Homo sapiens: one gene and its partner. The protein of the gene in region 1 interacts with the protein of each later gene in a pairwise test. Each region holds a gene or a part of one and is shown on either strand. Other genes may lie near its edges.

Region 1 (5,723 bases):
TTTCCATGTCACTGAATACTGGTTGATTTCCCTTAATGAGATTAAGTCTGACCCAACTGGGATTGTCCTGTTTAGTTTTTTATTGTACCTATATGCTGTATTTACATAGAGAAGCCAGTCAGATAAGCAATCAGCTGTTTAATCTACTTGATGGTTTTTCGCTAGATCTTCTTCAGCTATTAGAATGAAAATACGAGTAGCATCTATTGCTTGTTGCATCTGAAAAACTTCTAGAGACGAAGCTGCATGAGAATCCCTTATTATTTGCTTTCACCTTAAAGTTTTCCCTAAGTACAGAGTGAAAAGGAACCTGGTCAGTGAGAGAATCTTATGCTTTTTCAAAAAGAAGAATATCACAGTGAGGGCAGTGGACTCTGCACCCAAAGGCCAATTCTTGTCGTGCTCTGCCACCTAAGACCCAAAAGATCAAATGACTTCACCTCTTCAAACCTCAGTTTCCACATGTGTATAACAGACATAATAATAACAGTATTCACAAGGATAGCCTAGGAAATAAGAAAGAACATTCATGAAAATCACTCAGCATAGTTCCAAGCACATAGGAAGTGTCTGACAAATACTAGCACTTCTATTGCACAACTTCTTTTGAAGTGAAACCTTCAGCACTTTGAGATAAATATTTAGCTACAGTTGTATATGCAGAAAGTATTTATAATAAACCAATAATTTCACTGAGGAAATTTAAAGTCATCTCTCCTAGCATTCGCTTTCCATGTAATCATACTTAATACCTGCAACCTGAACCTATGAAGCATGCACAGGTCACTGAGGAGCAATGTGGGCTGGGAACTTTACTGCCTCAACATATGAAAGAATCCATTTTTTATTGACTTTGAAGATTATTTTAAAGCTGGGTTAATTTTATATTTATGCATTCTGAACTGGAGATAAACCTTTCAAGCCCCAGGCCTCACCCTGAAGCACATTCTGTGAAAACAACTTCTTCCAGAAGAGATGATCTGAATCAACAGCCAGCCAGTCTCAAATCACTGTACTCTCAGAGAAAACTATTTCACAAGAAATGTTTTTCTCTGATCACAGCAACACTTTGAAGACTTCCAACATCAACAGAGATGGAGGGGAAAATGTGTCTTTCTGAAATGCCAATTTTTCTAAAGCAACCACCCCCAAAACCCTTTAGTCACTTCAAATGGTTTCAAGTGCATACTGAATCAGCCACACTGAAATGAGAGATTGTGATAAATGAACAGAATAATAGAATAATATTTCAGGATAGAAATCTTTAATGAAACTCAAATGTCAAGGCCTTCCAGAGACCATTATTATCACATATATCTGAATGTATGACTGCATCTATTGTTAATGCTACTCCACTTAAACATAGTATGTGTTATTTGTTTTTAACCAATTTAAGAGAAAACTGAATGCGGGGCACCAACATTGAACATTTCATGGAGAAGTCGCCATCTTCTGAAGGTACTAGATTCAACAGCCACTGTTCTTTGAACGACAGGTGCACTCCAATTGGTCTAAGACATTTATTCCAATCTTCACTGCCTCAAAAACCAAATTATCCACTAAAAGTTCAGCTTTAAAACTGCTTCTTTATTAATGCATTCAAAGGGCTAATTTCCAGGGTTTGCAGTTTAGGGCTACTTAACTTTCAGGAGTTCCCAAGTTCTAATAGATTTATTTTCACTTGCATTTCATGTGTCATCATGTTAAAAGAGAAATACAACACATAAAAGTCAGTATGCTCTATCCATTAACCCATCTATGGACATTTATGTGGTTTCCCTGTCTTGGCTTAATGAACATGGGAGTGCAGGTATCTCTTCAAGATACTGACTTCAATTTCTTTCAATCTATATCCAGAAGTGGAAATCAACAAGACATGGAAACACAAGTATTGTATGAACTCACTTATATGTGGAATCTAAAACAATCAAACTCTTAGAAGCAGAGAGAAGAATGGCAGCTGCCAAGAGCTGGCAGGAAGCAGAAATGGGGATGTAATGGTTAAAGGGTACAAAATTTCAGTTATGCAAGATAAATAAGTCCTCGAGGTCTCCTATACAGCACAGTACCTATAGTTAACAATACTGCATTGTACACTTTAAAATGCTAAGATGGTAGATCTTATGTTAAGCGTTCTGACCCAGTAAAATATTTTAACAACAAAGGACATGGGAGGAAACTTTGGGAGGTGACAGATATTTTATGACCTTGATAAAATGGTTCTTTATAAAAGTTAGTGCTCTCACTTTCTTTTATTATCAATAACAAGAGTCAGAATAACACAATTCCAAATGGTACTAATCAAATTAAAAAGTCAAAAGCAAATTGTACTTAAACAGTCCATATATGTATACAGAGACAGATATAGACAGAGAGGACTCTCCACCTTTCATGTACTGCAGCCTTGTTTTTGCCTCATTTCTCTTCTACCCCATTATATAATGTTCTATCTAAAACCAATGCTCCCTCTTCCTTACCAACCTCTCATTCATAAACCAACTCTCACTCTGTCATGACTCTTTAATCGATCTTTTCAATTTTTTTGAGGAAGAGAGTAGGAAGAACATTCACTCCCTGGTAACACCGACGTCAACGGTCCTGAAGCCATCCCCAGCCTAAAGGAGCCTCAGCCTTGGCCGTTGTCGGCCCTCATCACCTCAAGAGAGTTTCTGAGCCACACAGATTTAAACATACTAAAGAATTACAGATTAGAGAGCTCACAACCACAGGGAAAGTGCTGCCTATCACTTAAGACACTGAGAAAATACATATAAAAATCTCTACAAGCAATTAAAAATAACACATTTTAAGAAAGGGAAGAAAGAGTCTCCCCAGAGAGAAGATCCTTGATTTGCACTGTCCAGGATGGCAGCCACCAGGCCCACATGGCCACCAAGCACTCGAAATTTGGCTTGTCCAATCTGAGATGTGCTGGAAGTGCAGAATACACACTGCAAGGCAAAGACTCAGTATGAAAATAAGGAGAGAAATCTCATCAATAACTTTTTACCTTGACTACATGCTAAAATGATAGTATTTTGCACGTATTGGGTTAAATACACTATTTGAATTAATTTCTTAATTTCACCTGTTTCTTTTGACTTTTTTTTTTTTTTACCATGGCTACTAGAAAGTTTAATATGTGGATCACATCATGTTCCCACTGGACAGGGCTGGCCTAGCGCTGCCCTTCACACGCACCTTCAGGACCTCGGCATTCTCGGGTTATAGCGCTGATCTCAATTACATGTAAAGACGAATGCAGGTACATATGAAACAGTGGTTCTCAAAGTATCCTCCCAGAATAAAAGTTTAAGTTGTCAGCAACTACCCCAGACCTACTGAATCAGCAACACAGGGGTGGAACGCAGCAATCTGTGCTTCAACAAGCCTTCCAGGGGATCTGACACATGCTCAAGTCTGAAAACCATGGCTGTCTTCGTCTGTTTTGTGCTGTTATAACAGAATACCTGAGACTGGATGATATATAAAGAACAGAAATGTATTTTCTCACAGTTCTGGAGGCTGGAAGTCCAAGATCAAGACATTTGGCATTTGGTGAGGGCATTATTCATTCGTCCTCATGTAGCAGAAGGCAGAAGGACAAGCAAGCCAACAAGAAAATGCTGTGTGAAGCCTCTTTCTTAAGGGCCTTAATCCATTAACAAGGGAAGGACCCTCATGGCCTAAACACCTCTTAAAGGTCCCATGTCTTAATACATCACATTGGCAACACCTGAATGTCAGAGGGGACCCATTCAGGTGGGTCCTGAAGAAAGGACAGAGAAGAAAATCTCCAACAAATGTTCCCAGTCATTGAAAATCTATAACAAATGTTCCCAATCATTTGAAGTGATTGTCAAACATAACCATGCTGTGGCCCTACGGCAACCTGGACTTTAGGGAAACAGCCCCTTCGATTCCATATGGAGCATGAAGACCCCTGAGAAAGACTTGCTGCTTCATGAATGGGGTCAGACTTCCTCAATTGTCCAGGGCCAGATGTGCTTCCAGATCCCACAGGCTGAGCACATGCCAGGCACTAACTCGGGCTGTCAGGATGTAAAGAGTCCTACTTTCCAACCCACAGGAAACATGGAATGCAGAGGGAATGAAGAGGAGGAAAGACAGAAGAAAAGAACATTTAAAGCAGTTTTCAATATTCTAGAAGACGTATCATGTATCCACAGGGTGAAAAAACAACAAACACATTCATATTCCTTCATTTCACTGGTGTTATTTTAAGTTGAAAGAGACAGGAAAAAACAGACATTTAATATGAAAATGTAGATAAGCTAAGAAATAGATAAGTAGGGAGGGAATGCAGAAAAAGGAGGAAGAAAAGGGCAGGAAAAGGACAGCAAAACTTAATTATCAACCCATTTCTGTATGTGTACATACGTATTTGCACAGATGGCACTATACCATAATACCCTGTTCTATCAATTCTAAGATTAATATGTATTCACATTTTAATGACTCTGTGAAATCAGAATATGTCTTAAAATTTCTGTTGTTAGATTTGGTAATGTTTTGGTATTTGTATTCTGTTCTTGGAATCTCATTTCTAAACACGACAATCCAGCTGATTGGCTTCCGAATGCTTAGACGGTTGTTTATATTACAGTTATTTAATGGTTAAAATGTCCATAATCAATGAGTGGATAAAAACACTGTCGTGTGTGTGTGTGTATACACACACACACACACACACACACACCGGATCCCCACTTTGGGGACTCAGGGGGAAAGGGTGGGAAGGGGGTGAGGGATAAAAGACTACAAGTTGGGTTCAGTGTATACTGCTTGGGTGATGGGTCCACCAAAATCTCACAAATCACCACTAAAGAACTTACTCGTGTAACCAAATACCACCTGTTCCCTAAACACCTATGGAAATAAAAAAATTTTAATAAAGTTATGTAATGGTTAGAGGTAATTTTTAAAAAAGAAATATATACTCATTCAGATCCGTTCAATTGTGTTTTTTCTCCCTACATAAGGCATGCTAACCAGGAATAATATGAAAAATTCAGCTAAGAAGGGGCTTCCAATTTTAGAATTCCTATTCTAGAATTCCTATTAATAGTACTCAGGACAATGTATGATGGGCTTAACAGTCCACACTACACTTCAGCTGAAGTCTACACCTCCCTGAATCACAGCTACTATGCATTTAATAGGAAACCATTATGATTTAGAACTTCAATGTTGCTAGTGCCAATACTATTATCCTATGGCAGGTGATGCATGTCAAGATACCAATTCTTTCCACAATAATATTCAGCAGCTTAATTACATACATAAACCTTATGGTATAGAAGAAAACACTGCTCTTTAATTTAATGCAAAATTTTTAATTTCTCAATATAATCAGCTATGTGGAAACTACCTGCCATTCATTGTTCCTTTTGCTATGTTATATGTCAAGCATCTCTCTCCTCCCCTTCTCAATTCTTGAGGCTTCTCAATTTTTCTTGGTCTAACTCCTAGAATCACATTCTCTTCTTTTGATTCCTCTCACTTTTGCTGCCTTCTTTGGACCTTTTCCATTTTTACTCTGCTTCCTGTGAAATTCTATGAGCAGCACCAAGTAAAACATTCAAGGACAGACTGACTTATATTCCCCTAAGATTATAATTTTTTCTAAATCACTCTAAATTGCATTTTAATATACGTAAATGTGTGTCTGTGTGTGTCTACATTTTAACTCTGCTGCCCTC
Region 2 (3,966 bases), on another chromosome or scaffold:
CAATCCTACCCTGGGACACTCTGTCTCCAAATTCTACCCCCACAGTGCCCCCAAGTCCTGTCCCCGGGTCACTATCCTGCCACCCCTAACAGCCACAGGCCCAAACAGCCAAACCGCGGGACCCTTCCCTCACAGGGCGTCGCCCTGTTTTTCTGCGCTCCGCCCCAGTCCTCCTGCCCCACCCGCCAGCCCCGGGCTGTAGGGTCGGGGCCCACTGACAGCTCCCGCCCCCGCCGCGGCCAATCAGCGGTTGGTGCACACGCCCCCCCGGCCACAGCCAATCCGCAGCAGCCCTGCAGCTCCACCCCTCACCTGGGGGACGCCAGCGCACCCGGGCCCTGCCCCCCCCCTGGGTCCAGCTGGGGAGTCTGCGTCCCCCAGTGCCCTGCGGACCAAAACCCAGGAGTTTCAGCCCCTCCTCCCTCTGATCCAGATGTCTCAACCCCCTACTTTCTCTTCCCTTTGGACTTTTCTTGCCAGCCACCTTCCTATTCTACAGGCAGTGAGAGGAAAACTCCTTTTCCCTGAGGGCCAAGAGTAAGAGGGCCTTCTGCGTCTCCCCCTCCATTACCTCCTAATTAGCGCTTAATTTACTCTCCCCTGCGGGCCTTTAGTTAGCGCGCTGGTGAAGCCAAACCGCTCTACCCTTCCCAGGAGCCCCTGGCGACAGCGACAGGGCTAGCAACATCAGGCACCTGCTTGCTGCAAGGCCTGGGGTTGGGGGGCGGGGGGAGCTGCAGTCCTTCAGGGTCGAGGCAACTTGTGGGTCTGGGGTGCAAGGGCTAAGTGGGGCAGAAGGACTCGTCTAAAGGATGGGAAATAAATATAACGATATCCTCCTCCTTCTGGCTGCAAATCGTTTTTATGGGAACCTGCAGGGTGACCCGGCACCTTGCTAACTGGGCTTAGAGTCTAAGGGCTTGGGGGCTGCATCTGATACAGGTTGGAGTTTGGGGTGGGAGAGTCCTAGGAAGGGGGCCCCAAGTAGAAATGAGAGAAATCAGGAAGGGATATCGGGGGCGTCCACGGGGGTGCTCCGACTGGCCTTGCACCCGTACCCCAGCTCTGCACCCCCCGTCACGAGCAGTTCAATGCCCGTGCAGAAGTTGGCTTCGGAGGCCAGGAACACTGCCGCAGCCCCGACCTCAGCGGGCTGGCCCATGCGGCCCAGTGGCTGGGGAGAAAAGAGGGGGGAAGGAGGTCAAGAGGAGCCCCACTTGATCGCCATGCCCCCCACCCCCATGCCACCTTCTACCACCTGGATCTGAACCCCACTTCTACCTGGGCCAGCATGCCCTCTCGGATTGTGGCCCTAGGGTCTGGCATTAAGGCTGCCAGCTCCTCCCACAGCGGGGTCCAGATGTTTCCTGGGGAGATACTAGAGGAAGGGAGAGGGGGGATCAAAGCAATCTGTCTCGAACCACTTGGGATCACTCCCAGTCACCCCAGTCCCCCCAGGAGGCTCTCCGCCTGCTCAGAGCAGCTCACCAGTTGACTCGGACACCATATGGACTTTCATCCAGGGCCAAAGCTTTGGTCATGGCTGTTACTGCCCCCTGCAGGAAATGGAGCGGGGAAGAAAGTTCAGTCCCCGGGACATGGGGTCCCTGCCATCCATTGTCTCCTGCCAGCCAGGGGGGCATCAGAATGGGGAAGTCATGCCCTCCTTGAAGGCTGCCTTCAGAGGCACCAGGCTTGGTTTCTTGGGAGAAACTTGGCATAGAAATCTGTCACAGGAAGGCCAGGTGCAGTGGCTCACACCTGTAATCCCAGCACTTTGGGAGGCCGGGATGGGTGGATCACTTGGGCCAGGAGTTCGAGACCAGCCTGGCCAACATGGCAAAACCCCATCTCTGCTAAAAATACAAAAATTAACCGGACATGGTGGTGCACGCCTGTAATCCCAGCTACTGGGGAGGCTGAGGCGTGAGAATCGCTTGAACCCATGAGGCAGGGGTTGCAGTGAGCTGAGATCATGCCACCACACTGCAACCTGGGTGACAGAGTGAGACCCTATCTAAAAAAAAAAAGAAGAAAAGAAAAGAAAAGAAAAAAAGAAAGTTAGCCGGGCACAGTGGCTCATGCCTGTAATCCCAGCACTTTGGGAGGCCGAGGTGGGTGGATCACCTGAGGTCGGGAGTTCGAGACCAGCCTGACCAACATGGTGAAATCTCGTCTCTACTAAAAAATACAAAAATCTAGCTGGGCGTGGTGACAGCCACCTGTAATCTCAGCTACTTGGGAGGCTGAGGCAGGAGAATCACTTGAACCCGGGAGGCGGAGGTTGCAGTGAGCCAAGATCACACCATTGCACTCCAACCTGGGCAATAAGAGCGAAACTCCATCTCAAAAAAAAAGAAAGAAAGAAAAGAAAAAACAGAAATCTGCTGGGTGCGGTGGCTCATGCCTGTAATCCCAGCACTTTGGGAGGCCAAGGCAGGCAGATCATGAAGTCAGAAGATCGAGACCATCCTGGCTAACATGGTGAAACCCCGTCTCTACTAAAAAATACAAAAAAAATTAGCTGGGTGCGGTGGCATGCGCCTGTAGTCCCAGCTACTCGGGAGGCTGAGTCAGGAGAATCCCTTGAACCCAGGAGGCAGAGGTTGCAGCTGAGATTGCACCACTGAACTCCAGCCTGGTGACAGAGCGAGACTCCATCTTTAAAAAAAAAAAAAGAAAAGAAAAGAAAAAACAGAAATCTGTCACAGGCAGTTATGCCTGGGTGCTGCATCTGGGAGTTAGGTGTGAGACTTTCTAGGGCCAAGATCTTGCTAGGTCTGGCTCCTAAGTTGTCTGGACTCAAAGCCAAGGCCCATGGGAAGGAGTAGGGAGGGAAGGAAGGGGTAGGGGCTGCCATACCTTGGTGGCCACATAGGGAACTGCCTGGGCCTGGCCGATTGCCCCCACCAGGCTGGAGATGTTGATGACATTCCCTTGACTCTTCCGCAGGTAGGGGAGGGCGAGCTAGGGAGACAAGAGGCCAAGTAAGCTACACAAGCCCTGCATCTTCGCAGACCACTGAAACACAGCCACAGCCATCCTGATGTCTGGGATGACGGCCACCTCCCTGGCATGTTTCTAGTTGATCTCAGTGACTGCTAGAGACGGCATCTAACATAACACCCTCTCTGGTTTGCCCTGGGGTCGCTGGGTCTCAGCACTCAAGGAGTCTCTCCTTGGTGGGAAGGGATTTCTCTCTCTTCTCCTCGGTCTCTGACTCTGTCTTTGTCTCTACCTCTGTCCCTTCTCCCTTGGTCTTTGTATGTTACTCAAATTCCTGTCCATATCAAGACAGGAAAATGGATGAGAGATCCAGAAGGCTGCATATTTTTCAAAAATGGGATGAAGTTATTTTCCGGTGAAGTCTCTGTGGCCCAGGCTGGACTGCAGTGGCACGATCATAGCTCACTGCAGCCTCGAACTCCTGGGCTCAAGCAATCCTCCCCGCTCGGCCTCCCAAAGTGTTGGGATTACAGGCACGAGGCATCACACCCAGCCAGGAAGTTCTTTTATCCATGGAGGGGGAGATGGTTTCTATGAGGCCTTCATGAAAGGCACTCTAGACCAGGCACAGTGTCTCACACCTGTAATCCCAGCACTTTGGGAGGCTGAGGTGGGTGGATCATCTGAGGTCAGAATTTTGAGACCAGCCTGGCCAACATGATGAAACCCCATCTCTACTAAAAATACAAAATTAGCCAGGCATGGTGGTGCATTCCTGTAATCTCAGCTACTTGGGAGGCTGAGGCAGGAGAACTACTTGAACCCGGGAGGTGGAGGTTGCAGTGAGCCAAGATTGCGCTACTGCACTCGAGCCTGGGCAACAGAGCAAGACTCCGTTTCAGAAAAAAAAAAAAAAAAAAAAAGAAATGCACTGTTTCCTGCCACCGTTTCTCCTGCAATTCAACTCCCTGGCCACCTGGGAAGTCCCTAAATACTCTCTCTGTGTGTGTGCGTGTGTGT

The links.
Region 2: the proteins of CA8 (region 1) and HSD17B14 interact in binary tests that used the Homo sapiens proteins (3 or more experiments, as listed by UniProt).

The regions. Positions count from the first base shown.
Region 1 is NC_000008.11:60,210,665-60,216,387, forward strand, and holds part of CA8 (carbonic anhydrase-related protein), read right to left. Parts: intron 1-5,723. UniProt on the Homo sapiens protein: Does not have a carbonic anhydrase catalytic activity.
Region 2 is NC_000019.10:48,812,175-48,816,140, forward strand, and holds the end of HSD17B14 (L-fucose dehydrogenase), read right to left. Parts: intron 2,968-3,966; coding exon 2,863-2,967; intron 1,557-2,862; coding exon 1,489-1,556; intron 1,379-1,488; coding exon 1,282-1,378; intron 1,175-1,281; coding exon 1,001-1,174; 3' UTR 844-1,000; downstream 1-843. UniProt on the Homo sapiens protein: Catalyzes the NAD(+)-dependent oxidation of L-fucose, yielding L-fucono-1,5-lactone, which rapidly converts spontaneously to L-fucone-1,4-lactone. Can also act on D-arabinose and L-galactose, with lower catalytic efficiency. Does not use NADPH.